7 linked regions of the Homo sapiens genome follow. The protein of the gene in region 1 interacts with the protein of each later gene in a biochemical or structural test. Each region holds a gene or a part of one and is shown in the gene's direction. Other genes may lie near its edges.

Region 1 (4,092 bases):
GTCTCCAACCATAATGGAAATATCATCTTCCAACAGTGATACCAACCTCATTTATTCTTTCCATTCAAAAAATAACAGAAATCATGACAATGTGTTAGTTGTAATCTCTAGTTTTTGCACAATGTTAGCCTGCAGCAGTCTCTTTTCTGCCCGATTCAACTAACTAAACTTGTCTTCCTTATTTCTTCCATTATTTTTTTTTTTTACTTCAGAAACCTATTCAAAACTTTAGAGTCAAAGTTGCAGACCCACGTGTGTGTTGTGATTGTACACTCCAGTATGCCCACTGCTTTGCCTTTTACTATTCTAATTTGTGCTGCCTGCTTATTGTCCAATGTGCCATGGGCTGTAATCTAGGATGAGATTATGAAAAAAAACTCCTTGTTGATTTTAAATGTGCAGCCATAGTAAAATCACTGATCTAGACCTACTTCATTCTCTTTAAAGACAATCAAACCTAGTGTTTTGTACGATTTTTCAGAGCTTCTAATATGTAACTTCCCATATAGTCTTTTTCAATTCCTTCATTTATTTGATGCACATTCAATATAAAATTTCATCTAATTTTATTTTGAAGAAAGTGAAAAACCATAAAAAGTAAGAAGTGGGGCACTTATATGGACTTATATGGAAACTAACTTCTCCAAAACTTAAATACTTTCTTCAGTTATAAAAATTAGGAGGCAGAATTTAAATCAACAAAGAAACTCAAAAATTAAGTATTATATCAATCCCTAAATTATTACACCATGCTTCCTGAAATACAATTATAAACAGATTTGAATTTTCAGTCAACTATATAAATTACCTATTTACACACAAATTAAAACTAAATATGTCTATTTGCAAGGAAATAAAAAGTGTGTTATTTTAAAGTTTTTAACTTTATTATCAGTACAAGATAACTTGTCAGGATGTGCCTAGTCCTCTCAAGTATATTAATCACAGTGTGTGCTGTGAACTAAATTACATTAGAAGCATGTAAGAAATGCAGAATTTCAAGCTCCACTCAGACCTATTGCATTAGAATCTGCATTTTAGCAGAGATAATCCTTGTGCACAAATATTTACCACCAATTGACAATTTTAAAATTGACAGGGAATTCGTTTACAGGAAAATTAGACAACTGGGGAAATGTCAAGTGTAATTGCTGGTTTTTTCCAAGAATTTGGTCCCTGAGAAATGGAAATCCCGGGAGAGTATTTGTCTCCATGTTTTTTGGTACCTCGCATATCTTAACCCAGGGCAAGCCTTTATAGCACAGCAATCAGAGCTGCTCAGGTGAGGATGCTTGCCACCCTGAAGCTGGAGAAACAAAAACTGCAAAGTCATAATTAGAAATACTGACCTGTGATGCAGACCAGCTTCAAAGTGACTCTGAGACTGAGGGCTGGGCCCTGCCCTCTCAACACTAAAGATTCCAGAATGCTGGGTGTCTATGACTCTCAACACCAACATTAATGCCATGTCAGGAAGAGAACATTCCAAGCCAACATTCTCCATGTCAGGAAGAGGAAATTGCAAGTAAAATCAAGCATTGAAGTTTTTAGGCAGTGGAAAGGTGAGTGTTTTCATCCATCACTTGTGATTTGAGACTATTAGATCTGGAAATAATCTTTGCAAAAAATCAGGAAACTATTATTCCTCATTATCTTTACTTATTCAATTATTTATGAAATGCTCTTTTAAACCCTCTTCAGTGGGCCAGCCACTTTGCTAGTTACTAGAGATACAGAGGAGAATAGCTCGGGTCCATCACTGGGCTTATAGAATAACTCAGTCAAAGAAAATGTGCTGTCTGGAAATCAGAGTTTTTGGAGCTTACAGTAGGAAGATCAACTTAATTACAATAAACTGGACAATATTTACATGATGACTTCATTTTAAATGAGATTTGAAAAGTAAATATTTACCAGACATCAGAAAGACAGGTGTTGGTAAGACTATCTAATGTAAAAGAAATAGCTAATGAAAAGGCTCAGTGAATGTGACAGACTCTAGGAACTGAAAGAAGCGAAGTGTTCCTGTAGCCAAGGAGGAGGATCACAGGAACTAAAAGTGAAGAGGGACAAGAGATAGCATGAATCTGTGTACTTTATCCTAAGTGTAATTAAGGCAACCTGTTCATCAGTGTCCCTGAAAGTGAATCATCATCTGATTTCTGGTCCAGTGTATTTTATGACCAGGAATAAGTAGCTCATTCAACTTCTAAGAACTCAAATACTAGAATATTTTCCTTTACATTTATTTTTATTTTTTTTCAGTAGTAAATTATTTATATATTTTTATTATTATTATACTTTAAGTTTTAGGGTACATGTGCACACTGTGCAGGTTAGTTACATTTATTAAAAGATGTATTCATAAATCTTTCAAATGCCACACACAAAATTAAAGCTTATCCTTGCTCTTCTTAGGATACATGAAAATGCTCACTAATTATCTCATTGCCTGCAAATATTTCCCAAGCTCTTGACAGCTTTTGTGTGCCTTCCATCTTATCAATGTCTTTCTTTTAAAAATATATCCATTGGAAAACGATGGACTCCAGGTGTAATATGATAAGTGTGGAATGGTGCTTTCTAACCTCATGAGCACATAGAAGATGGTCATATTAATATGGCATAATGAAGTTACTGGATGAGAAAGCTTGTGGCTGATGGTGACCAGTGAACTGGCTCTGAATGCCACAGTCTTATCTGTGAGAACCCGAGGGCTACAGACCAATACCTCTGAACCATTATGAACCTTTCCCTACATTTCAGTTCCATGGCATATGAGTTGGAAGCTATGTTACAGATCTTACATGGATTGCTAGTCATCATAGTCTAGCCATTATTTTTTTTATAAATGAAATCTGAATCTCCCCTTGCTTTATCCATCATCCACTATTCTATGGACTTCATTTAGTTAATACAGAAGTACACTTTTATGTTTTCTTATGAATTGTATTCAAACCAGATATGTTGTACATAAAGAATTAATCATTTAAACTAAGACTGGAAGTTAAGTATTTTTCTCACTCAATTTTAGCTTGTTTTTTTTAGCTATTTTCAGTGTCTAGAACCAACCACATTTTGCTGGTTGTCATAATATTTTAGGACTGAAGTTACAGTAACTTGGGAATATTGTTAACCAAAGGGTGTGTGTAGACCATACCATGGGGAATTGTCAATTCCCAAATCCATGTATAACTCACAAAAAGAAAGTTTCACAGTTTAATTCCATAGAACTCTTCCCAGCTGTAATCCCTACTATGATGATTACAATTAAAGTAATCAAAAACGTAAATGACTAAAAAAGTAGAGAAAAATGCTTTTGATATTCATGATGTTCAGTGACCTTACCTTATTCTTTGATATTATATAATTTATAACCCTACTTAGCTGGCTTTGGTCAGACCTTTTATTGCTACTGTCATATATACCCAATTTTTAACACGCAGGAGTAAACATAATAGACCAGGAGCCCTATATTTTTTATTTGTTCTTGTATTAACAGAAGACTATATTTTGTGTACATGTAAAGTATTTTTCAGAGCCTCATATTGATCCTATAGTGATCACATGAGGACACATAAATAATAGAAAATACATTTTTAAATGTATATATAACAGAATAGCTCTGAATTCGTTCGGGAAACCATTCAAAAGTTGCATGCCTCTCTAACTTTACTTCAGTTATTGAAATAATTGACACATCATCCCTTATTATGGTGAATATTAGACTTAGTATCAAGTCTCTACAACAGTATTTCTCTTCTTCTTAACACAGTCCTGTTGGGTTGTATAAACAATCAATTCACGTATTCATTGTATTGGCTATTTCTTCCAGTTTTATTTTATCTGTACATTAAATGATCACTCATTTCCATTTTAATCTTAACTAAATTATTGAAAACATTGTTAACAGGATAGAATTAGATTGAGAGTTCTATTAAAGCAGGGAATGTGTCATTTTACTTTTCATGCATTTTGGCTTCGGGTCAGTATTCGACCCCTTGTCTCTCAGTAATGATGGCTGAATAAAAGAGCGAGCTAGAATAGGTGCAGCAAACCACCATGGCACATGTATATCTATGTAACAAACCT
Region 2 (3,500 bases), on another chromosome or scaffold:
CAGGGTGCGTGTGTAAGTTCCAACAGGCGGATGGGGAAGGCCTCCCTGAGGAGGTGACATTTCTACAAGTTCCCGAAGGAGCTGAGACGGGAGTTTTGATGATGTCTGGGGAAGAGTTTTGTGGGCAGAGGGAACAGCCGATGCAAAGGCCCTAGGGGGATGTGAGTCTGGTGGGCCTTGGGTCGAAAGGACAGATGTGTCCAGGAAGGCTTCACCTCCCTTTAGAGTGCAGTTGCCAAGGTGGGGTGGGCCCATAGGGTCAAATCTCCGCTTTGTCACTTCTGGCTGTGTAACCAGGAACAAGTCACTTAGCATCTCCATGCCTCAGTTTTCCCAGCTGTAAAATGGGGAGAATAACAGTGCCCAAGTGGCAGTGTGGTTATGAGGATTAAGTGAGAAAATGCAGTGTGCTGGAGTGGAGCTGGCCAGGGCGAGCATCAGGAGGTGAAGTCAGGGGACCGGGGACTGACAGTTGTGGTGAGGACTTCTGCTTCTACTCTCCCTGAGCTAGACACAGTCTTCTTGTGACTGCAGGCAGCCGCCATTGGGAAACTGAATGGTTCTGTGGGTGACCCTGATTTTGAGGTCACGTTCCTTGACATTGCTGGTTTTAGAGTAGGGCAGGAGAGCAGGACCCAGAACGCAGAAGGCCAACCCCCAACTTGAGACTGCGCCCCCGCTCTCCCATGGTGGGATGTTGGCCTGCGTGTGGCTCAGGCCTGCTGGACAGGAGCCCCTCTCCCTGTGTGGAGGAGGATTGTGGGGGTGGCGGCCTCTCCAGGTGATGCCATGGGTCCTGCTAGCCCTGATGCACCCAGCCTGTGAGTGCCTGAGCCCTAACTTAGGTATTCTTGGGATACTGGAGCTGTCACCTTCCCAGTGCCCTGATGCTTCTCATTTGGGGTCTGTTGCCCTCCTGTTTGGAGGGAAAGAGCAGAGCCAAGGGTTCAGGGCATGGTCTGTTGTGAGGTCAGGGAGCCCTGGGTTCCAGGTGCCTCTGCAGCTCACCAGCTCAGTGGCTTCTCTGGGCCTCAGGCTCCCTATCTGTAAACTGGGGACAATCGGTGAGCCTCCCTCCATGGTTCTTAGGACAATTAACTGACTTAGCATTCATAAAGTGCTTAGAGCAGGCCTGGCCCAGGGAAGGGCCCAACACTGGGTGCTACTTATTAAGGTTCTTTATTTTTTTCTTTGCAATCCTTGGCAACAAATGAATGAGGCTTCAAATTTTTAAATGTATTGATGCATTTCTTTTTGTCTCCCTGAAAAACGTGCTTCTGCCGAGCTTATCTGATCTTTCTATGCTGCTCTCCCCATGGAAGCTGGGCTTCCTGGGAGGCTTGTCGCCCGTGGGGATTGGAACTGTCATTCAGAGGTCAGCCTGTAACTGGCTTTGAGGCATCTCCATCGAGCCCTTGGCCTGTTCCAGCCCTCAGTGGCCAGGGAGGAACGCCCAAAGGAGCTGGGGCTCTGCCTGGAGCCGAACAGCCCCGGGGCTGCAGGCATTACAGCAACTTCCAGGCTTGCATGGATGGGGGAGTAGGCAGGAAGGTACCCAGAGGGTAGGGCCAGACCCCTTAGGGAGCCAGAAGGCCTGGGCTTCAATCCTGGCTCTGCCACTTAGAAGCTCTGTGCCCCTGGGCAGTTCCCTTGACCTCTCTGTGCCTCATTAGGCCTGGGTTCAAACCCTGGCCCTGCCCTTTATCATGGGATATCACTTAACCTCTCTGTGCCTCAGTTTCCTCATCTGTAAAATGAGAATCATGATTATACCGCCTCAAAAGTGGTGAGGATTAAATGAGATCGTGCTTAGGAAGCACAGAAACCAGCACTTAATCACTAGGAGCCATCATCATGATTGATCTAGGAAAACCTTTCAACAAGGTGAGGGAAGCAGGCAGGGAGGGAACTGCCATGTTTTATGGTTTCTGTGCACACTTCCCCACAGTTCCTCCCAGCAACCCATGAGGTGGGCACCAGTACCCCCATTTTGCAGAGGAGAAGTCTGAGGCTCAGAGAGAAGTGACTTGTCCCAGATCCCTTAGCCAGTTGGCAGCCGATTTAGAATCAAAGTCCCAAGTTGGACTGACTCCAAAGCCTATCCCTCCCTTCCCACCATATCAACAATCCCTTCCATGGTGGGGCGAAGCTGGCTGGGGCTGGACCGTCACTTGGTGGAGTACTTAGCGCCCATGTCCTCTTCAGCACCCAGGGTCCCGGTGAGCTGGCATGGTCCTGGCCGACAGCTCACCGTCCCTGCAAATCATGTCCTGTTCGCCCCAAGTGGAGCCTCTGGGCATTTGTTTTCTCAGTGGTCCCTTTTGAGATGCTGAGTCCTCCCTCCAGGAGGCTCACAGAACAGGGCAGCAGTCAAAGCCGGCTGACTTTATAGTCCCACCCACTCCCCCACGCTTCTTTCCAGCCACCCGCTTAGGCAGGACCCTGGCGAAGGCAGCCTGGCAAGGAGTTGACTTCCTTTTCCCTTTGTCAAAGCTCAATAGCCCCCTGAGGCCCCAGAGAGCGGGAGATAATGAAGGCAAATTAGCCATGATTTCAAGAGAAATAAAATAAAAAAGAAGGCCACCCACCCCGGCTGCAGCGTGGGCCTGAGTACCAGGTGCACAGGTCTGAGCTCCAAGCACGTTTCTCCCTCTGTCCCTCCTCCCCTGACTTGCACACCCCACATTCGCCGGGACTGGCTGGCACCACTGCGGAAATGAATTTTCCTCTGAAGCGAGTTCCTACAGGACGATTGACTGAAGGCAAAAGCTCATAATTGCCCGTTGCTGGAAGGAGGAGACAGGGAAAAAAAAAAACATGGATAAAAATATCTCTGTTTTTTATGCACGTTTCCAGCTGAAAATTGGTGGGAAAGATGTTTTTGAAAAGCCTTCATCTCTAAGCATATAATTACCAGGTCCTGGAACAAAAAAGAGAGAGTGGGAGAGAGCAAGCATGTTCTCTGAGGAGGGGGCCTAGGGTCTGACCCCCCCAAGGGGTTTTCTATAAATAAAGTAATCCCCTCAACTTCTCAAGCTCTGGCCAGCTGGAGTCAGCCATGGGAGAGACACCCCCATTTTACAGAGGGGAAAATGGAGGCTCGAGTCACACAGCCAATTGTAATTCTAACCCTATTTTGATTCTTGGTTTGGATGCTGCCTCAGTTCCCCCCCATCTGAGGATGTTCGTGAAAGAGAGGCCCTATGTCCCCTCTGAATAGGCATCAGCAAACACTGCAGCATTCCTTCCGGGCACCTTTCTGACTATGCCAGGGGGTCTTGGGTGCTCAGAAGCCTCTCATCTGGCAACTCGCCTATCAAGAATGGCTTCTTGACTTCCACAAGAGGCCACCAAGGGCACACCCTGAGATGCCTAGGGAAGTCTCTCGAGGCCTCGCCTGCTGCCCACTGACTCTTTGCGCACAGTAGTATGACTTGTTTTGCAGCACGCAGTCAAGTCTCTGACAGCTGGGAAAAGAGATGGCTCACAGGCTGAACCCC
Region 3 (2,465 bases), on another chromosome or scaffold:
TTTTTTTTTTTTTTTTTTTTTTTTTTTTGAGTTAGAGTCTCGCTCTGTCACCCAGGCTGGAGTGCAGTGGCACGATCTGGGCTCACTGCAACCTCGGCCTCCTGTGTTCAAGCGTTTCTCCTCCCTCAGACTCCCAGGTAGCTGGGATTACAGGTGAGCACCACCATGCCCAGCTAATTTTTTTTTTTTTTTAAGGTATTCTTAGTAGAGACAGGGTTTCACCACGCTGGCCAGGCTGGTCTCCGATTCCTGACCTCAGGTGATCCACGTCGGCCTCTCAGAGTGTTGGGATTAGAGGCGTGAGCCACCGCACCTGGCCTCCAGCCAACATTTTAACCTCTCTGTGCACCTGTTTCCTCATCTAGGACACAGGGTGGATGGTATCAGACTTGGTGGCACAGGGCGGTGGTGAGCACTCAATGTGCTCAGCCCAAGTTTTGGCACATAGTAGTTGCGTGTCTTTTTGAACTTGACCTATCTAATTTATATATTTTATTTTTTAAATTTTAGAGATAGGGTCTTGCCCTGCTGCCCAGGCTGGAGTGCAGTAGTACAATCATAGTTCGTTGCGGCCTCCAACTCCTGAGCTAAAGGGAGCCTCTCATCTCAGCCTCCGGAGTAGCTGGGACCACAGGCGCGCACCACCACCCACACCCAGCTAATTTTTTTTCATTTTTTGCAGAGATGTGGTCTTGCTATGTTGCCCAGGCTGGTCTCTAACTCCTGGGCTCAAGTGATCCTCCTGCCTTGGCATCTCAAAGTGCTGGGAGTACAGGCGTGAACCACAGCGCCCAGCTGTAGTTGGGTGTTTAACAGTAACAAATGTGTATGTAGCTCTTAGTGTATATGCCTCAGCATCTTCTTCCACACCCTCTCTAGGTCAATGTAAAAATCTATGAATCAATGACATCTCTGATTAGAGTGATTTTCCTGGGGTTGTGCAGTACCCAACCTGCTCAACTGTCCATGGCAGGCTGCATACGGAGCAGCCACTGTACTAAGTCCTTTACGTACATGAACTCATGGCTGTGGCCCTGTGAGGACTTGCACAGATGAGAAACCCAATTCCCCTTTTGCTGACAGGCTAGGAGGTCTCAGCTAAGGCCTTCCCCTATCCCAGCCTCAGTTTTCTCATTTAGATTTGGGGATGACCTGCAGACTTGTCACGGGGTTAGCAAGTGGGCAGCATGGCCCGGGCCAAGGTGGGGGATGGGATGGAGGTGGTTATTGATCTCGACTCACCATGCTCTGGGGGGAGTTTTGAAGCTCCTCTCTCCCTCTCCTCCAAGGTGGACAGCCGCCACCCCCAGGGACAGTGGCGACAGGACAGCATGCGGTAAGAACCCCATATTCCAGATTGGGGCCCTCAACCCTTCCCTTGGGACTCAGACTCTGCGGACTCAGATCTAGATCCAAGCTATGCCTTCATGGTGCCCCTAGCCTAGTGGGGAAGACAGAGCCTGCCAGAGCCTCTCTAAGCCCCATATAATCAGGGCCAAGGGAGTAGGAATCCACTTCCTGGGAGGCCTAGGAAGGCTTCTTGAAGGGCAGGATATTGCAGCTGGGGCTTTGAGGGATGCATAGGAGTTTGTTAACAAGGCCCTACCCATGAATGCCCAGATGTGCTTATCTCTGCCCACACCCACTGTGCCTAGCACAGCCAGCCTCAGTTTATGGTGAGAAAGCTCACACCCTTCCCACCCACAGCATCTATTCTATTTCCTGATCCCCAGAACCTATGAACGGGAAGCCCTGAAGAAAAAGTTTATGCGAGTACATGATGCGGAGTCCTCCGATGAAGACGGCTATGACTGGGGTCCGGCCACTGACCTGTGACCTCTCGAAGGCTGCCAGCTGGTCCGTCCTCCTTCTCCCTCCCTGGGGCTGGGACTCAGTTTCCCATACAGAACCCACAACCTTACCTCCCTCCGCCTGGTCTTTAATAAACAGAGTATTTTCACAGCACCGGCTTCTAGTGGCTTCCAGGAAGGACAAGGTCCTCGGTCCCGTAGACCCTGATCCGAGACTTTGCCAAATGCATAAGCTTTTACTGTTTTTATATTAGGAAATCATACAGGACCAAGAACCGCTGGGGTCCTGGCCAGCCAGGGCAGGCCCAGGATGGGGCTCCGGGGCCATGGAGGCGAAGGCACAGTGGCAGGCAAGGGATGAGGTGGTCACAGGTACACGGGCTGCTCCTGGCCTGTAAGGAGGCGATATGTGGCAGCTGGCATCGTCTTGATATGCACCTGGGGAGTGGAGGCGGAACGGGGCTCAGGGCAGGCCTGGGCTCGTGGGGGACGTGGGGGCGCCCCTGGCCACCACCCACCACCCGCACACCTCGCCATAGGCCTCGGTGAGCAGCTCGATGATGCGGGCGTGTGGCGTGGCCACCACACTCTGCCCATTGATCTCAATGATGCGGTGGCCGACGCGGATGCCCCCACGCTCGGCGATGCCACCAC
Region 4 (3,500 bases), on another chromosome or scaffold:
AGAAGGGGAAGGGAATTGGGGAGGAAAAAAAATCAGAAGGAAGACGAAAGATGGGGCTATAAAAACAAAACTACCTGATAGTTGAAACGCTTTCAGAGTTGTTCAAATCAGTGAGAGTGGCAACGGAACACACAAACAACTAATTATGGAACTCTACTCTGGGGATCCTCTCTGGCTAGATAACCTGTGCTGATGTGCAGACACGTGGACATCCCCCTCTGAGACTGGCGGTCCAGAGGCAGTCTCTGCCAGGCAGCATTACCCGCTCCGAGGTGGAGCCTCAGCCCCCTTCTTAGAGCTGTTAAGTCTAAGGTGTGGCAGAGCAGACAGAGATAGAGGCATCTGAAGTGAGTATAGGTTTTTTGACTAAGAAAAAAAACAACAGCAAACATGACTAGTGATCTTGAAATATTTTGTACCGAGAGAAAGACTGCATTTATTTGTAGAATTTATCAGGTTTCTGATACCACTCATTGGATGTAAACATTTCATGTTTCCTCACTTTTGATATGAAAGTCGGTAAAATGCAGTATTAGTCCCGGGAGGATGTGCACAGCTGGTCAGAGCTTCCAGAAGGAATATCTTCCGAGGACTAAGGTGATCAGGTTAAGAGGGTTCAACATCCCACGGCCCTCACCTTCCTCCCTCCCACATTCCAGGCATGGAGATATCTGGTTTCAGAGTCAGCCCCAAATCTCCTGCCTATAATTACTTTAACTGGGGTCTCTAAGGTTCCCACTTGAGGGCTAAAATGTAGTTGGGAAAGAGGGCCTACTGGGGAGGTCTCACAGGAGGCAGTGCCCTGGGAAATGCCAAGTCCAGACTCAGTGCCAAGCAGTAACCATCTGCACTCGGGGACAGCGAGGAGCTGACCATGGCCTCTGATGACCAGCAGGTATTAGATGGAAGTGAATGAGAGAGAGAGAGAGAGAGAGTATGTGTGTGTGTGTGTATGTGTGTGTTCGAACACATATGATTGCCAGTATGGAGAATGAAAGATTAATAATGCTTTCTGGAGAGTTTGATGCAAAAGTGGGGGAAACGGAGAAAAGGCGCTAAGGCTAAATCCATCTGCATTTGCTATATTTCATTAGCTAAAGTCAGGTCAGGGCAGGGCCAAGGCCTCCAATTGGCAAAGGACAGTGTTATGGCTTTAAAAAGCTGAAACCCCAACCTCTAAGTAGATCACAATGTTTTCTGAGCTTTGCAGTAATTTTCTATGGAAACTAAAACCTCTAAAACATACAAGCTGGCCCAAATGAGAACACAAGCAAAAGATGTGGAAGACAGCAAAACCTGAGCACTGGTTTGAACCAGGCACTGACATTTGAAATGCTTTAAGCCTTTTCACATTCCTTCTTTATTCCCTCCAAAAAAAAAAGTCTTGAGTTTAATTTAGGTCTATTTTGGCTGAGATTAGCATACCTCTGACTCACAGGATTTAATAAATTATAGTATTATTGAATACATAGGACATCCCTCTACCCCAGCTTACTCTTATCTTTTTAATTTAAAATAGTATTCTGCTACCAAGAAGGATGCAACTGCTAGTTTTAGATGTAAATAGTGTTATTTACTGGACTTTGTGATATTATTTTCTTAACTACACTTTACTATGGCCCTGTTGAAAACAGACTATCAAGTTTTTTGTCTCTGTTCTGTCATCTCTCTTAAGCCAGGCACCTTTAGAGTGTTTGCAATTTGTTCGAAGTGGTTGAGGATCTCAGGCCCTGCTCACGTGAGGTGGAGTGCAGGGGAGCTACCGGTTTCCCTGCTGACCTGCTGAATGCTACCTTCCCCTCGAGTTGAATACACCTTAAGGAAAATGATAACACGAGGGACGTGTAACTTGTTTTGAAGCATTAAAAACCAGCAGCTCTTCACTATGTTCCATATTTTAACCAAACTACTGTAGACTACTAAACATAGCCAAGCCAGAACATTCCTTCTGGATTAAGCCTAGGCCACTTGAGGGGCAGCCAGGGGTGATGGTGTCAGGTGAGAATCCTGTGTCTTGAAGGAGTGGCCTTTACAGGAAGAGTGCCCATGTTTTCACCTGCAGCGTTGCCACCAGAGTGTGCAATACCTCCTGCACACAGGCTCAGGGTAAACTGCTCCAAAGCTGGGTTTTGTGTTGCATACAAAGTCAATAAAATAGTTGCTAATCCTGAATGGCAGCCAGTGATGTGAAGGTACTATTAAAGTGAACAAAAACTAGATTGCAACAGTTTTCTTTCCTTGCTTGAAGTATAACACACGCTCCATTTGATCCTGCCTGAAAGAAGCTAACATTATATTTGTGACAGACAGAGGCTCCATCAAGCCAAGCAACAATTAACAGCTCAAGTGTAAGATTTATAAATGCCCGTGTACTCACCCTTCAATTGTTACCACCCAGAGGTTACAGGACTCTTTCCCAGCATTTAGGGGAACAGGCTTTTAGAGTATTTAGAAGACCAGGCTATAATCAGTAATGTGCCTGGGAGCAGGAAATAGCTCCCAATTTATTTATGGCCTTGGGAAAACTCAATCCGGTGTCTCCTTGTAGCTCAGAACACTAATAGCCCCCCTGGAAGAGAGTGGCACATTGAGCTCCAAACCCAATCAACATACATCCACTTGGCTGCAGATCTGACTGCTGGGTCATGAAGGCCGTGAAATGATGTTTGCCCTCAAGTCACTAGATATTTTAAGAAGCCCTATTTTTCTCCCTTTTTGCAGGAGTAGAGAGATGAAAGAGGACAGACCATTGAAAACTTTTAGATGCAGGAGAATTGAGACTTCCACAAGGGAGAGAAACACAGCCTCCCCAGAATCCATTATGCCATCGGGTTGTGGCACTCTCACCCTTGCCATAATACCGTTTCCTAACAATATCAAATCAGTGGATGAAATACAAGCTCAGAAACAGGAACATTTTCCTAAATCATAACCTAATAGCAAACAAAAATTGAAAAAACAATTATTCTGAAGCTCATTATTCTTAGATCTGTAGATATATATGTGTTGACTCCCACAGGATGGCACCAAGTAAAGATCTTAAGAGCATAGTAGGGGTTCTGAGACCGACTGTCACCCGTGGATCCTGATGGGGAAGAACAGAGGCTTCACTGTAGCTATAGTTTTCCACCAAGTCAATCAAATTAAAACATGACTCATTGTCCCCTCCAAAGATTCATAAAATTCTTGAGCTAAAGTGATCTTCTGAAGAAAAGCCACCTAACAATGTTAGGAGGCTCATAAAGCTCATTTCTCTTTTCCCTGGTATGCACAAATATCAAGCCTATAAAAAAGTAATTATTTCCCCAAACCTGTAACCACTGCATTCGTTTTCTTTGGAGGAACATTGTAGCATTTCAGGAGGGTCGAGAGATCTAAAGAGTTTGGTCTGAATGTGTGTCTGTACAATTCCCTTTGGCATTAAACTCTGAAACCTACAATCAATGGCCTTCAAATTGGTGTTAAATTGGGAGAACACCCTACTGCTTTCTGAGTCTACG
Region 5 (3,500 bases), on another chromosome or scaffold:
TCCTATACAAAATTTCTATATTTTGTATAGGTATAGCAATCAGCTGGGGAGGAGACAAGCACTGTTCTTTGTTAATCTTTTGTTTTGGGTTTAGGGCTACATGTGTAGGTTTGTTATTACAGGCAAACTCGTGTCACAGGGGTTGCTATACAGACCATTTCATCACCTAGGTGCTCAGCATAGTGCCCAATAGTTATTTTTCCTGATCCTCTCTCTCCTCCCATCCTCCTCCCTCAAGTAGGCTCTGGTGTGTGTTGTTCCCCTCTTTGTGATCATGGGTTCTCATTATTTAGCTCCCACTTGTAAATGAGAACATGCGGTATTTGATTTTCCTTTTTTTTTTTTGAGATGGAGTCTCACTCTTTCACCCAGGATGGAGTGCAATGGCACGATCTTGGCTTTCTGCAGGCTCCACCTCCTGGGTTCAAGCAATTCTCCTGCCTCAGCCTCCTGAGTAGCTGGGATTACAGGCACGCGCTGCCACACCCGGCTAATTTTTGTATTTTTTAGTAGAGACGGGGTTTCAATATGTTGGCCAGGCTGGTCTGGAACTCCTGAACTCAAGTGATCTGCCCGCCTCAGCCTCCCAAAGTGCTGGGATTACAGGCATGAGCCACTGCACCTGGCCTTTTCTTAAAGCTGAATTTTCGTGGCAAGCTCGCTCTTCTTACTTGATGTGCATGTTCCTGATCAACCTAAAGAGTAAAGTACTTTTTGATGATGCTTTTCTTCATCCTTTAGATAAGAATGAGAGAGCAACAACTGCCTATATTAAAGGAAAATACTATTGTTTTTATCGGGACCAAGCTTGAGGAGCCTGGAGGAAGTAATGGGAGTAGGCTAACATCCCTTCTCCCTAGTTTCCTGAGACCAATGCTGCTTTTTGGTTGGGTGATCCTGTAAACTAACAGCAGACCGCCTGCAAATTCAGGCTCATGATTGCTTCTTCACACTTGAGGGGTGTTGTACAGTTTTCCCTTGTATACAGGAGAACTTCCTGTCACACCAGCCAGCATTTTCTAGGTACTAAATGCAGGCACTGCATTTGCCTTGCCTTCTGAACACTTCTGCATGCATGCTCTCTCACTCTTGTACCTGTACACAGTGCCATGCAGCTCCCCTGTCCAGAAGCTATGGGTGGTGGAAGGTGGCCATGCTGGGGTCTCAGCCCCACACCCTTCATCCTGGGGTTGAAGCCTTCTCAGGGACTGGCCTCAGTACATCTCCAATGCCAGTCTCTGGCTTGCTGTCTGTTGGATTTCCCAGCACCACTGCTCTCCTTTCTGCAGTGGTTCAGCAATCCCTGTGTTTTCTTCCACATCCTCCACTGACAGGAGCAGTCAAACCATCCCATGTGTTGTCAGGAAACACAATGCAGGTGACCAAATCACAATTCAGCATAGTCCAAGGATGGCCTGCTGTGATGGAGGTTGTCAAAAAGCAGTACTCGAGGTCTGCTATTCTCAAACCACAACCTCACATTAGAATTCCAGACAATGAGTTTCCCACAATGGCTGGGAATAAAATGTCCTTTCACTGTGGCACCCCAGCCACCTTTTGGCAATGCTGCCTTCATCATGGTGGGGTTTCCTCATAGCTGGGCCACTGCCAGAGGAAGATGTTTCCTTGGTGATGCTGGCTGGGTCTCCGTGGCAGAGACTTGACTACCATGACTTTCTTCTATCTCTTTAGGCTGCTGTTAAGGCAGCTGGGCTAGATTGGAGATCAGGATCAGACAGATAAAATGTCCATCATGAGCATCTGTCATGGTCTACAATAAATTGAGTTTCCTTTACCAAAAAAGGTCTCCCAGCTCATATGTCTACTAGGCAGGACACCAGTTGCAGCATGGTTTGACTTTTCATTTCAATCGTAAGTCCCATCCTCACCTCTCATGGAGGATGTGGAAGAGAATGAGCCGATGCTTATGACACTGCCAGAAGGACAATGATGACAGAATCTGTGAATGAAAGGGCCAGAAATACAGCATTATGAAACAGTGGCCCTGCCACTCCCTGCTGGATACCTTTAGATTTGAATAACTTCAAATCAAATTCATTAAATCAGATTTATTTAAATTGAATTCATTCAGCATGTGAGTTTGGGCACTTCCCTGAGTGTTAATGAGTCTGTATCAAAAGTAGTAAATCTACTTGTATCCAGGTCTAAAGAAAATCTAACTGTTATTCATTCCTCCCACATATATTTGTGGAGCAGCTAATAATAACATGTTAACAGTAGATACATTTATTGAGGCTCTACCATGTACTAAGCTGTGCGTGTCTGTGTGTGTGTGTGTGTGTGTGTGTATGAGAGCCATATATATATATATATATATGAGGGAATATATATTCTTTCATATATACATATATATTTTTATCTTTCTTAACATATGTAAAATCTTTTCTGTACGTATAATCTCTAAGCCTCACCAACTCTACAATATTATTGATATTGATATTATCTCTACTTTAGATACAGGAAAATTTAGGTTCAGTTATGTTAAGCACCTTGCCCAAGGTTTTTCTACTGATTCACAACCTCACGTTCTTTTCTTTGTTCTATGCCAGGTCACGAGTCAGACACAGGGTGAGCAGGAATCAGTGGCCTAGCTTTCACTCACAGGGGCCTGCAGTTTGGTTATTACCAAGCCTCCCAAAAGGACCTGATACGTTGGTTTTTGGATCACATGGTGGCTGCAGATGTGCTCAGTGGGGTGTCCAGGAGAGGCTGGGTTTAAGACAGTTCCCACATGCTGGCTGTAGCATTTGGGGCAGGACACTTAATAGCTTTGACTCTGTTTTCTCATGTTTGAACTGGGATTACACCTTCCTGGTGGGTTTGCTGAGAAGATGGGAAGATGTCCATATCTTCCTATATGTATATCTAAGGTGCCCATCACATGGCTAGAGCTTAATAAGGGATAGCTGGCCTTATGAACTTCTTTTGAGCCTACGCATTCATAGTTGGGTCACGTAAGCTCTATCTAGGTTTCTAAATCCCATGTAGAATCTTCCCTTTCTCTAATCTAAATGTAACATCTTTCAGGAGGAGCTAAATTCATATTGTACCCGAGCAGCTATAAACGATCACTCTGTCACTGGAGGAAAACGCTGTGCCCACATAGAGATGCCACCAAGAAACCGGCCTTTTTAAGCTGTTGACTTTTTCTTGGCTTGTTTTTATAGGTGTTGGTGGAAATAACCCAGATGAAGAAAAGAATAGCACAGCCAATTCTGGGGTCTCCTCTACAGACATCCTGAGCTTCGGGTACCAGGGAAGTTTGTTGTCACACACACAAGACCAGGACAGAAATACTGAAGAACTAGACATGGCTGGGGTGCAGAGCTTAGTGCCCAGGCTGAGACATCAGCTTTCCTTTCTGCCGTTAAAGGTAATCATCCCTTGGTTTACTTTCTAGATCTGGATGAAAGAGAACAGACTGTGAAGCCCAACAGCCTGGCCCCTAGGCCCTTCCTGTTCTCTGTTTTCCATGTCAG
Region 6 (3,500 bases), on another chromosome or scaffold:
TGATTTGGTTCAACCCTCAGTTGGCTCCCTGTTTCCTACTGCATCAAATTCAGATGTTTCATTCTGATCACCTGTTATCTCACTAACCTTAGCTGCCACAGCTCTTTGTCATGGAGCCTTTGGTTAGATTCTCATCTGTGAAGTATGTTTTTTGCTTTTTTTTTTTTGCTTTGTGGCACAGGACTGGCAGGTGGATCGAGTGTGGGGGAGTATATAAAAATATTTTGTACACTTCAGAGACCTACCCCATGAGAGGTACACTGTGTTATTACTACCCCCTCAAAAGCACATCTGCCCTTCATTCTCATCTCCATTTCTATCTTTGTCCAAATCCTCTCCTTCAAGCCCGAGTTCAGGACATTCATTCATTCATTGATTAATTGATTTTTTATTTGTTTACCGGCATGTTGAAAAGGGACATCTTGTATATCTGGCATAGACATTGTGACAAATATAAAGTTAAGTATGGCCAGGTATGGTGGCTCTAGTCTGTAATCCCAGCACTTTGGGAGGCCGAGGTGGGTAGATCACCTGAGGTTAGGAGTTCAAGACCAGCCTGGCCAACATGATGAAACCCTGTTTCTACAAAAACACAAAAAAATTAGCTAGGGATGATGGCAGGTGCCTGTAATCTCAGCTACTCGGGAGACTGGGCTGGGAGAATCGCTTGAGCCTGGGAAGCGGAGGTTGCAGTGAGCCAAGATCACGCCATTCATTGCACTCCAGCCTGGGCGACAGAGCGAGACTCTGTCTCAAAAAATAAATAAATAAAATAAATAAAGATAAGTATAAATATTTTCTACCTGCAAGAGAGGAAACAACGACACTAATGAAAACTGAGACTAAAGTAAAATCATTGCTCTGTGGTTGGTACAAAGAAAATAGTTTATAAGAGCAAAAGAGGGGCGTTCTTCTCTTTTTTTTTTTTTTTTGGGATGGAGTCTCACTCTGTCACCCAGGCTGAAGTGCAGTGGTGCTATCTCAGCTCACTGCAACCTCTGCCTCCTGGGTTTAAGCAAGTCTCCTGCCTCAGCCTCCCGAGTAGCTGGGATTATAGGCGTATGCCACCACACCCGGCTAATTTTTGTATTTTTAGTGGAGATGGGGTTTCACCATGTTGGCCAGGCTGATGTCAAACTCCAGACCTCAAGTGATTTCCCCACCTCAGCCTCCCAAAGTGCTGGGATTACAGGCGTGAGCCACCACGCCCGGCCAAGAGGCATTATTTTCATTTGGGTCAAACAGGCTTCACAAATAAGTTGGTTATTTGGTCTGGACCAAACACACTGGGTTGAGATAGAGGAGAAGCCCATTCTATCCTGAGCAGAGATAGGGCAGTGTGAGTCATGCTTAGGAACATGGAGGAGACCACACTGCTGGTGTCAGCTACCCAGAGTGTGGTGAGGGAGGATGAAGTGCTTGGGAAGCCCCTTGGGGCTATGCTGGGGAGCCATCAGCCATGGATGTTATCAGATTGGGGTGTTTAAAAGATCAACCTGGTGGCAAATGGAAGGTAGAGCTGATGGGAGGGTGCTAGTTCAGTGCCTAGTCCAGGAAAGAGGGGGCATTTTTCCAGTTTGTCTTTGGTATATATTATTTATTTTACATGAGTGAAACAGCAGCTTTGTTAATCTGTTGCAGATCTGAACATAAAGTCTGGTCTCCTCTGGTGACGGAGGAAGGGAAGCGTCATCCATACAAGATGAATTTAGCCTCTGAACCCCAGGTAAGTTCTTGCTCATCGTTGCCGCTGCTCTCACCACCCAGCACTTTGCCGTTTCTGACACTGCTCAGCACATTCCTGTTTTTCCTGCCCTGGAGGCCTGGGGATAAGACCCTTCACTGTCTCTGCTGGTATCTGGCTCTTGTTCAGTTCTTCCCGTAAGGGAACTGCAGGAGGATAGGGCTGGAAAACCCCAGGGCAGTGACGCTGTGTCCTGGGCTGGAAGCAGGGGGTCGGAAGGCGATAAGGGAAGCCGGTGGAAGCCTTCCTGCGTGGGAAGGGTTGGCAGGATCACAGTGAAGTCAAGGAGCTATTCAGCTCGTTATGGATTTCAGCAACAAATGAATCATGACAGGGATGAAAATAAGTTTAGGTCTGGAGGCCTAGAGCCTAGAAGAAATCGGGGAATATGTAATAGGAAGCCCTGCTTCTCCCCACTGTATGCCCCTGTCTGGTTTCCATGAGCCATGGAGTGGAAATCTCTATTTTTGTTACAGTGAAACTTCTAGTGAGACTTTAAAATTACTAAAATAAAGCAGCAATTAATATAAAAAAAAGCAGTACATAGTGTACAATTTGTCACCCAGATAGAATTTCTCAGGACAGTAGACTGCCCTAAGATCCCATATTTGTGAATAAATCTCTCAGTAGTTGGATTATTGGATTGTAGGTGATTTTATTTCTTTCTGCCTTATGTGCCTCTTCTAAATAATCTACAAGGCATGGGTATTGTTTTTGAAATAAGGGACAAACTTAGAGATGTTTAGAACATCTTTTGTAAAATTCCTCACACCCAACATGCTACTTGTCTCAAAGTATGTGTCTGTTGGATACATTAATGAATTAGTAATGATAAACTAGGTATGTTGATAATGCCTTTTGAAAATTTTACACTGGTTTGTGATGGTTATGCATTTGACCCAAGTTGAAGATTTGAAATTTAACTTATTTTTCTAAATTTGGGATACTATTTAGTTTTTATGGTGAATTAAGATGTAATTAAAATACAATATATAGCTAGCTATCTTTTATACATAAAACAGAAACTTGTATGAAGTTGAACTCACTTGGTATATTAGTGTGTGTTAATTGGGTGGTTGGATATAAGTCATATTTTCTCAAATAGAATCCATTAAAATTTCAAAAACGAAGTCACATAAAATTTTTGCCATTAAGATAGTAAAAATAATTATTAAAAATCCCAAGAGTCATTTTAAGGATCATTTTGCATCATTTCAAAACTGATGTGAACATATTCTTCTATACAACTCCTCTCAGGAAAGTTCGTAAAATGGCACTTGGTCTATACACTGGCAGTTGTGCAAACTAATTTAAAACATGCCACAGTTAGTTTCAGTTTCCTTGGGAGTTCTCAGCTACTTCATTAAATTTACCATAAATGTTAAATTTTAATTGTTAAATTTTAATTTTTACATATTTTATAACACACAAGGAATGATTTCGTTTTAACTTGGTCTATCTGAAATCCTCATTTTCATGTAAATAAGGTAATTATGTAAATTTCAGTTATAGTTTTCATTTGTAGTATATTTGAATTTTCATTTTAAATCTGTAGTTACCTGTATTAATCTTTTGAAGGTAGTTCTCTTCAGATTACAAAAATTCTCAAATACTTTAAACCCTTGTATTTTTCTTGTGATTCTAGTAATGCTTTATTACTGTAAGAAAAACTTCTCACCCATCATTTTTCCAGTCTTTTACTTCCAGCCATTCTAAAGTAGAGGATAAATGAGTAAGAGCAGAGTTCATCTATAAT
Region 7 (3,500 bases), about 41 Mb from region 1:
AGAAATAGAAAAATAAATCTTCATATTGTAAACACTCAGTGGGATAAATGGCTTCCCAGGGGAATGAGGCCTGAGGGAACGACAGCAGTGGCACATTTGGTCCGGTGCAATATTAGGAGACAGTCCCATCTGGCATTCCATAGGAGAAGGTCTACTGCCTTCCACAACTATGAGATGACTTATTTTAGTTATGCCTTAGGGCACTGTCACAGCCACTTATCACCAAGGAAAGTTAAATGTACTAAAGGCTGGACTTCACAATAAGGACAGTGAATCTGACATAATTTGCTGCAGCCATATTCATGGGTCTCAAGTGCAGTGATGGTGACATTCAGACCAATGCAATCTACCTACTAAAGGTTGGATGTTTACTTTACAGTTCACTCTTTTCCAAGGCTTTTACTCCAGGAGCAAAGCTGCCATGAATTGCCCATTCCCCAGAGAGTAGTGAATGCTAGGTCAGCCGGAACAAAAGCATGACAGCTGTCACATTTACACATTGATACATCATCACACACATTATTTCTCAAGTGCATCATCCACATCAAATCACAGAGCTTATTAGCACATACATAGCTGACTCTTCAGAGGAGCATAAAATCAAAGATGTGTATGAAAGGGATGTTCTTTTTATATTGTGCCACCATCTGACTTCTGTTCCCTTTCCATGTGGCAATCTCCCTTCACCCTGCCACTTCCAATCTGCTTTTACCTTCCTGCTCCCATGATGCTCTGTGTTTACTTCTGTCTTCAACTATCTTATAATTATGTTTATCTAGCTCCCCATTTGTTCATTCATTCATTCATTTACTCATCTATTCATTCAACAAATAAATGTTGAATCAGTCTCCATGCCACATGCTGACAAACAAGCCATGGTCTTCGCCCTCAAAGAATTACTGATCAGTCAAGGAGACAAAATAAATTCACAGGTCAGAGAATAAAAACCTAAACTAAGTCATTGCTGTAATCAGTAAAAAGGGAATTCAGAGAAGACAGAATTCTTGGAAGGCAGGTCGAAGATGATCCAGAACTATGTGATTTCTTTCTTTGAGACAGGGTCTTGCTCTGTCCAGCCCAAGCTGGAGTGTAGTGGTGCCATCATGGCTCACTGCAGTCATGACCTCGTGGGCTCAAGCCATGTTCCCACCTCAGCCTCCCAAGTAGCTGGGACTAAAGGTATGTGCCACCATACCCAGCTAATGTTTGTATTTTTTTTGTGGAGACAGGGTTTCACCCTGTTGCCCAGGCTGGTCTTGAACTCCTGAGCACAAGTGATCCACCTGCCTCAGCCTCCCAAGGTGTTGGGATTACAGACGTGAACCACTGTGCCTGGCCCACATGATTTCTTGACATCTGGAGCAAATATTTATCTTTCTCTGAAGAGTGTCCCTTGGTTTAGCCCAGCATCTTCTCCACCCACGAGTAACATCCATTCACAGCATGTACAGCTGAGACTGTTTGGAAGAAAAATTATACATAACACCCCTCAGGACAAGATGAGTTTAGCAACAAGAGTTCAGGAAATTCTCACTACTTTGTATTTCAGCCATTAATGTCTAATGTCAATATATTGTTTTTTTTTTTTCCAAATAGCCTCTTTTGAAAGATATCAAGTCTTGGTATAATAGGAAGTCTAACTGAAAATTGGTTTAAAAAACCAAAACCTTGAGTTCTTACCCCAGATTACTCTTCGTTAAATACACAGCCTTAAGCACATCCCTTCTTGCCTCTGTTACTTGCTCTCGAAAGGAATTGACTAAGGCCAGATGTTCCAGACCCAAATCTCTGGCTTCCTAAGCAGCATGCAAGACGGTAATGATTTCAGAAATTCTACATGCACCTGTGATGCATCCTGATCAGCCAACCAAATTGCATTTGGCAGGACATTTTTTTTTTAACACCTGGAAGACCCGGAAAGATAAAGCTGCCAGTAGTTAAGAATCAATAGATTAGGTTTTAGAGAGAATTCAAGAATTTTTCATTTCTCTCCCACCTTGATTTATCCTTGAGCCTTTTAAAAAAAATTTATATATAATAGTTGTACAAATTTTTGGAGTATATGTCATATTTTAATACCTGTATACAATGTGTAATGATCAAATCAGGGTAACTGGAATATCCATCACCAGAAATGTTTTGGGAACATTACAGTTCTTCTCTTCTAGCTATTTTGAAATATTCCTATAACTGCATTTTATACCCCTTAACCAGCTTCTCTTCATCTCCCCTCCTGCCTTCCCTTCCCAGTCTCTGATAACTACCATTCTACTCTCACATTTCAGAAAGTCTGAGATACACTAGAACAAACTCCAAGAAAGGGTGGTCAGGAAAGTTCAGATTTAGAAATCACATCCAATGAGGGGATAGATGAAGCAATAGGACAGTTTATTCTGAAGAAGTAGAAGCCTCAAGACACACTTAAGCACTTTACTTAAATATCCTAGGGCCTACCATGGAGGATATTAGGTCCCTGCAGAACAGGGACCAGTGACTACAAATCATAAGGAGACATATTTGGCTTCAATCCAATGTGGGACCAAGAGACTGCCCTTTGAGAGAATGAGCTTTCTGGCCGTGAGTCCTTGTTGCTGAAATTATTCCAGCACAGAGGAGTCCTGAATGAAGACTAAAAACCTGTTGCTAAGATTACACTATGTTTTCTGTAGGATTTATTTTTGCCATACATTTTAATTTTTTAGGATTTGGAATATTCCCTTTATGTTCTAATACAAACCCTCATTTTCCCAGGGAGATGAATAAGCGTCTAACAGAGGAACAAGCCAAGAAAACCTATGATCGAGCAATTAAGCTAGAACAAGAATTTGGAGAATATTTTACAGGTAAGTTCACTTTTACCCTGGTAGTGTGAGAAAGGGGATAAATTGTCTGACATTTGGCACAGAGAGGGTTCTGGGCCTGGTGTACTTGTGCCCTAAAACCTTCCTGTTGAGAATCCCTAATATCTGTTTCATATACAAGGAGTATCCCTCTGCTTCACCCATTTTGATGTAAAACCCTGGGTTCTCCTGAGAGTTCAGCTGCAGCCAGCTCCCAGGTTCCCACCAGCCCTACCCAAAACCATGGGCAGGAGATACCCCTGAGCTATCTCCTACCATGAAAAGGATTTGAGGCATTGCTACCTCATTAAACTATCTCCCTGATATCATCAGAAAACTTGAAAAACAAAATTTTAGGGCTCAAAATGGTCAGTGTCCAAAGCAGTTACTCTTGAGAAGAAGCTTGGAGGCGTCCGTCCCCAGCTCCATGAGCTTTCATCAGTGTCCCTATCAGCAGCACCTGAACAAGATGCTTAAAACTTCCTCATGTTTCAGTTCACTGTGTCAAGTCTCAACCAAAACTGCTTTTTTTTTCTTTTTAAATGTTTCCTTGGAAACATGAAGGGGAATAGAGGTTTTCTTCTGGAGAGCCTGAGTTCTGAGTTCTGTATTCCTATATACTTTCATAGAACACTGAGTAATCAGACTTTGTGAAATTTG

Evidence for each region.
Region 2: the proteins of OR8G1 (region 1) and GRIP2 interact in a test that uses a peptide from one of them, tested with the Homo sapiens proteins (one large-scale study listed by IntAct).
Region 3: the proteins of OR8G1 (region 1) and TJP3 interact in a test that uses a peptide from one of them, tested with the Homo sapiens proteins (one large-scale study listed by IntAct).
Region 4: the proteins of OR8G1 (region 1) and PARD3B interact in a test that uses a peptide from one of them, tested with the Homo sapiens proteins (one large-scale study listed by IntAct).
Region 5: the proteins of OR8G1 (region 1) and FRMPD2 interact in a test that uses a peptide from one of them, tested with the Homo sapiens proteins (one large-scale study listed by IntAct).
Region 6: the proteins of OR8G1 (region 1) and PDLIM1 interact in a test that uses a peptide from one of them, tested with the Homo sapiens proteins (one large-scale study listed by IntAct).
Region 7: the proteins of OR8G1 (region 1) and DLG2 interact in a test that uses a peptide from one of them, tested with the Homo sapiens proteins (one large-scale study listed by IntAct).

Annotation. Positions count from the first base shown.
Region 1 is NC_000011.10:124,239,803-124,243,894, forward strand, and holds the start of OR8G1 (olfactory receptor 8G1), read left to right. Parts: upstream 1-1,292; 5' UTR 1,293-1,562; intron 1,563-4,092. UniProt on the Homo sapiens protein: Odorant receptor.
Region 2 is NC_000003.12:14,533,843-14,537,342, reverse strand, and holds part of GRIP2 (glutamate receptor-interacting protein 2), read left to right. Parts: intron 1-3,500.
Region 3 is NC_000019.10:3,748,849-3,751,313, forward strand, and holds the end of TJP3 (tight junction protein ZO-3), read left to right. Parts: intron 1-1,289; coding exon 1,290-1,336; intron 1,337-1,733; coding exon 1,734-1,836; 3' UTR 1,837-1,965; downstream 1,966-2,465. Other genes in the region: APBA3 (amyloid-beta A4 precursor protein-binding family A member 3), read right to left, coding at 2,057-2,249, 2,341-2,465. UniProt on the Homo sapiens protein: TJP1, TJP2, and TJP3 are closely related scaffolding proteins that link tight junction (TJ) transmembrane proteins such as claudins, junctional adhesion molecules, and occludin to the actin cytoskeleton.
Region 4 is NC_000002.12:205,615,975-205,619,474, forward strand, and holds part of PARD3B (partitioning defective 3 homolog B), read left to right. Parts: 3' UTR 1-3,500. UniProt on the Homo sapiens protein: Putative adapter protein involved in asymmetrical cell division and cell polarization processes. May play a role in the formation of epithelial tight junctions.
Region 5 is NC_000010.11:48,180,697-48,184,196, reverse strand, and holds part of FRMPD2 (FERM and PDZ domain-containing protein 2), read left to right. Parts: intron 1-3,188; coding exon 3,189-3,394; intron 3,395-3,500.
Region 6 is NC_000010.11:95,267,004-95,270,503, reverse strand, and holds part of PDLIM1 (PDZ and LIM domain protein 1), read left to right. Parts: intron 1-1,641; coding exon 1,642-1,726; intron 1,727-3,500. UniProt on the Homo sapiens protein: Cytoskeletal protein that may act as an adapter that brings other proteins (like kinases) to the cytoskeleton. Involved in assembly, disassembly and directioning of stress fibers in fibroblasts.
Region 7 is NC_000011.10:83,461,345-83,464,844, reverse strand, and holds part of DLG2 (disks large homolog 2), read left to right. Parts: intron 1-2,751; coding exon 2,752-2,843; intron 2,844-3,500. UniProt on the Homo sapiens protein: Required for perception of chronic pain through NMDA receptor signaling. Regulates surface expression of NMDA receptors in dorsal horn neurons of the spinal cord.